Regions from separate parts of the Homo sapiens genome. Here region 2 is linked to region 1. A link means that fine-mapping ties the variant in region 1 to the expression of a gene that starts in the linked region. Tissue or cell type: anterior cingulate cortex. Region 1 holds a variant in brackets; the other region holds the start of a gene. All regions are shown on one strand. Distances are from middle to middle.

What was found. PIP is the estimated chance that this variant, and not a neighbour inherited with it, causes the effect.
Region 2: it holds the start of DHRS11, and the variant in region 1 is fine-mapped to the expression of DHRS11 in anterior cingulate cortex (GTEx, PIP 0.99).

The regions. Positions count from the first base shown.
Region 1 is chr17:36,023,753-36,026,508 of GRCh38, forward strand. No RefSeq gene overlaps it. Among named protein-coding and RNA genes, the nearest start is that of CCL23, 7.2 kb to the left of the region's middle. The variant C/T (reference allele first, on the strand shown) is at 1,084.
Region 2 is chr17:36,590,495-36,593,122 of GRCh38, forward strand. It overlaps DHRS11 (dehydrogenase/reductase 11), which reads left to right and starts at 1,385. Exons shown (of 7, transcript NM_024308.4): 1 at 1,385-1,662. The coding sequence starts at 1,516.

The sequences.
Region 1 (2,756 bases):
AGCACAGTCCCTCATGGCTTCCCTTGGCTAGGGGAGGGAGTTCCCTGACCCCTTGTGTAATTTATACAGACCTAGGGGGACTGAACAAAGGGGGTGAACGTGGGAATAAAAGACAAGAGACAAAAGAATATATTTAGTCAGGGGCCACTTTGCCTCTAGTGGACAAGGGCCCTGAGCTTTACATAGCCCTCCATCTTTATTAGGCAAAAGAGATAGTGAGAAGGGGGTTGGAAGAAGGGGTCAGCCGCTTGGTCCAGAGTAGGCTTGTAAGACTGTGTTGTGCTTCCAGGGTGAGGCAATGCCCCACCCTGCTCCTGCTCACCCTCCATGGGCTACACCCACCGTCCAACCAGTCCCAATGAGCTGAACTGGGTACCTCAGTTGGAAATGCAGAAATCACCTGCCTTCTGGGTTGGTCTCACTGGGAGCTGCAGACCAGAGCTGTTCCTATTCAGGCATCTTGCCTGGGAATCCTTGTGCATGATCTTAAATGGCCTATTACACGAGAAAAACTTTCTTCTTAAGTGATAAGGGGAATAACAGAGCCTGCCAACTCATCTTCTTGTTTCTTGTGTAAGACTGGGCCCAGGTCCTTTTTAGAGAAACAAAACCAATCCAAACAATGTCTCCTTAAAGAGGCCTGTAGCTAAAGTCTGCGCTATGCCATGCAATTGAAACTGCTCTAGGGTTGCACAGAGATGGAGTCCCTTAAATATCTTCTGACCATTCCTGTATACCAGCCACTGTATGTGTATTTGGTGATACCAAGTCAAATGAATTGGTTTCAGTTTTGCGCCAAATGTTTCTCCTAACTCACACTGGTTATCTGAAATTAGATCTTGGTTTAAATATTTAACTAATTCCTTCCTTTGATAGACTGTTTGCAAAAATGGGTGCAGTAATTCCTACCACCCAGTGTGCCTACCCTTGGGAAGTCCCTTCGCCTACTGAATCTGGTCTTTGCTATGTGACTGTCTTTGGACAATGAGACAATAGAAAATGTGATGAAAACAGAGGCCGGAAAAGTGCTGGTGCATTGATACTTGCATTATTAATATTTCACTGCTGAGAACTTTTATACCA[C/T]CGCATGTGCCAGCCTATGCTAGCCTACCAAAGGAGGAGAGACCACAAGGAGAGAAAGGTCCCCAGACATCCCAGCTGTCCCAGCTGAGAGGTTATCCTAGGCCTTCAAACCCTGGCTGAGCTGGCTCAGACCGGGAGAACTACCCCTCCAACCTACAGAATTGTGAGAATAGCTGTTTGCTGTTTTAAGTCACTACATTTTGTGGTGATTTATGATGTAGCAAAAGCTAACTGATAATCCTCCTTTTGGGCCATAAGGATAGATTTATCTTTTTTATAAATTTGCTGAACGCAAAAGTAATAGTTCCTTATTCAAGAGGAGGCTTGTTGCTTTATTTTTAAAATTTTTTTGAAACAGGTTCTTCCTTTGTTCACCAGGGTGGAGTGCAGTGGCACAATCACGGCTCACTGCAGCCTTGACCTCCCAGGCTCAAGTGGTCCTCCCACCTTAGCCTCCCAAGTGGCCCGTACTGCAGGCATGCACCACCATGCTTGGCTAACTTAAAAATTTTTTTTTTTAGAAATGGGGTCCTGCTATGTTGCCCCCGGCTGGTTTTGAACTCCTGGGCTGAAGTGATCCTCCCACCTCCACCTCCCAAAGTGCTAGGATAACAGGTGTGAGCCACTGTGCCCGGCTGAGGCTTGTTGCTTTTAATTAAACTAGGTACTTGTTAGAGAAGGACTACATAAATCTTAGTAAAGATGCTTTATTCTAGTTAGGGTAGAGATAGAGGATTGAGGAAGTTTCTGCCATCCAGAGCTGTGGAGCCTTTGTGCCCATTGGAGATTTCAAGGGAGGTCCAGATGCATCCCTTTGGACTGGGATGAAGAGAAACATTTCTGAAAGGGATAGCATTTGATGCAGGTCTCAGAAATAGGACAGAGACTGTATACTGCTTCAAAAGGCAGGGAAGGGAGGAAGAAGATCCTAGTCAGCTGTAACTGCCAATAAGGATAGTAAATAGTTGCAATGAGATATGGGCTACTTACTGTTTTATGTTTTACAATTATTATATAATTAAATCTTAACTACAATCTTGTGAAATAGGCACAGTCATTAGCTCTTTTTCCAGATGAGGCTATGGAGACATACAGCAATAGAGTAATTTGCTAATATTTGCTATATGCCCACATGGGTAGTAAAGGGCAAAGCTGGCATTTGAACCAAGGTCTCTCTAATACTAGACCTCACTATTTAAGACAAAGGCATGGACATGATCAAATTGAGGCACATTTTGGATGTGTCTATAGTATACAAATAATGTACACATAAGCATGATCATTAATGTTTTTAAATTGGACTTTTTTATTTTGAGGTAATTGTAGATTCACATGCAATTGTAAGAAATAATACAGAGAGATCCTGGGTAGTGTACTCTTTACACAGTGTAAAAGTTGACCATACAATTGGGTCATTCTTGTCATACCCAACTAAAACAGAGTTGAGATGCCAGGGGGAGAAAACACTGAGGGCATATAACATTGGTCTAGGCCGGGCACAGTGGCCCACGCCTGTAATCCCAGCACTTTGGGAGGCCAAGGAGGGTGGATCACGAGGTCAGGAATTTCAGACCAGCCCAATAGACATGGTGAAACCCCGTCTCTACTAAAAATACAAAAATTAGCTGGGCATGGTGGCGGGTACCTGTAATCCCAGCTACTCAGGAGGCTGA
Region 2 (2,628 bases), 570 kb after region 1:
CATGGGACAATCAGTACTTCTGTGCAATGGAGGTGGAGTGAATTTTATGTGCTTTTAATCAGATTTTGAGTTAGATTTCAAGTGGGCAGCAGCAGAAACTTAGATTGAATTTTCATAGTGCCATTTCTTGGATCCACCTCCTGAGTTGTCTTTCAAATCTAAATGTTGTATAGGAATGGGGCAGAGGTAAAAGGACTCCTCTTGGACCCTTTTTGATTTCATCCCAGAATCTAAAAAATGACTGTGGGTCTCCCACAGCCCTTGGCTCAGAGGTGAATCCCCTCTTCACCACTGTTAAGAGTCAAATGTTCTTTTGAGATCCCTAAAAGGAAAGGCTGATTTAGTTTAGTTTTAATCTTTGCCATTGGGGCCAAACACAGGATAGGCAAATGAGTGTTTTTGAATGAATAAACCAGCCACATTCACCGCTTACTCCATTGCTTGCTGGAAGGGAGTCAGGTGGTTATTCAAAGATGCTTTTTCTTTAAGAGAATGGCTATATTAAGTACGCAGTTTTCAGCACTTTTAGTAAAGCGAGCTCTACTCTGAACAAAACCAGCAACCCGAGAAGCGATAATGATGTGAAGACAGTTGAGGAGCACATCCCTGGCGTAAGACTGGACTGCCTGTGGTCCAAACCATGCTTCACCACGTCAGTATACTCATCTTTAAAATTAAGATACTAATATGTGCCATCTCAGCGCGGTTGTGTAGATTAGTTACTATATTTAAAATGCCTGCTACACCATAAGCAGCAAATGTTAGATACTGTTTTAATCTTTGGCATATATCATGATACATTTGCTACAGTGGGGTAGGGGTAAGCGTGGGGGTCTAGGGCAGTTAGACACAGTGGGCCATTTAGGGACAGAATACCCCAGTACACGTGTACTTAGGAGTATTTCAGTTCTCCGTGGCTAGTAAAGCCAAGGGATCAGGTAGGGTGAATGAGTCCTTCCCAAGGTCACCTAGCATTGATGGCGGAGACACTCGGCGTTTTCTGGGCCGAATCCCTTCCCATCAGCCACCGGCGGGTTTGGGAGGGTGTGGAAGAGTGTTGGAGTCACCTTAAGTGCCCTTAATTCCTCATCCTGGCATTAGGGTTCAGGAGTAGAGAAGGGAGACTAAGCGGGACGCTTCAGTATGCGCCCTTGGGGCTGAAGGAACCTCCCCGCTAAACCTCGGTTTCCCTGACCCCAAAGGGCAGCGCTCACTGGGGAAGCGGCGCCGCCAGCTGCCAGGACGCTCCCGCGCAGCCCGGTTTCCCTACGCCGGGGCGGGGCAGAGGGGCGGAAGGGGCGGGGCGGCCGGGCCGCGGCGGCCTCCGACTGGATACGGCGGATCGCCGGGGGCCTGAGGGTGGAGTCCCGGCCGGAGGCAGGCCGGGACTCTGGTGGGTCTAGGCGCGGATCGGACCCAAGCAGGTCGGCGGCGGCGGCAGGAGAGCGGCCGGGCGTCAGCTCCTCGACCCCCGTGTCGGGCTAGTCCAGCGAGGCGGACGGGCGGCGTGGGCCCATGGCCAGGCCCGGCATGGAGCGGTGGCGCGACCGGCTGGCGCTGGTGACGGGGGCCTCGGGGGGCATCGGCGCGGCCGTGGCCCGGGCCCTGGTCCAGCAGGGACTGAAGGTGGTGGGCTGCGCCCGCACTGTGGGCAACATCGAGGTGAGGCCGGGCCGAGGGCGGGGACGTCGCGGGCGGGTCGTTTCCCCGGAGTCGGGTTCACCTGCCCGCCACGCCGGGGCCCTTTGCTCTAGTCGGGGCGGCCTCTCGGATCCCTTAAGGCAGGCTTCTCCCTTCCCCTTAAGTCTCATCTTTGAAGGAGCCGTTTGCCCTGACAGCCCCTGCTCGAGTTACCGAATCTCCGACCCCGGCATCTCCCCACCCGCCCCTCGGGTCTCCCCAGGGTATTGGCCCGAGGAAGGGGAAGCCGGAGGTCGGGGGTGGTGGTCTCGCCCCTGTGGCCTTCTCGCCCCCGGCGGCCAAGTGCCTCTAATCTCCAGAAGTCACCCACCACGCAGGGCAAGGTGGCTGGCCAACCAGATGGGCAGGAGCCAGGACTGAGGTTGGGGTTGGGGTGGGAGCTTTACTGAAGAGCCTCAGCCCCGCCCCCTCACCTCGGGGGTAACTCATGCCCAGTGGCATGAGGAATGAATGGAATATTCATTAGTGGGCCCTCCTCCACTCTCCTGGGGCGAACAGAGTGGGTGAAATCGGGCGGAAACCTTGAGAGGATAAAGCAACCTGGAACTCCTTACTCTGCTCTTGACGTGGGGTTGGGAGCCCTCAGAGCTCAGAGAAAAATCAAGATGGCCATTTTGGAGCAGGGAGGAATTTCTGTGCTAGGCTCTCTCTGGATGTGCCCTGTAAGCTCATTCTCAGTGTCGGGCTAGTGCTTAGCTGCAGGGCTTTATCTCCACCGTGCTCAAAGTCCTCAGGCAGGGAAAGGGTAAGGAGGCCTTGGGTGGGGGCAGAGGGAGAAGGTATACAGGAAGGAGGACTGTCCCCTCCCCTGCTGCTGACCAAAGGTATGCTTTATAACCCAGATAATCCCAAGGTCACCTGGCTCCATCACTGCCCCACTCTTTCCTCCCTTTATCCTATTCTGAGGAGCTCAGGACCCAGCCCCAG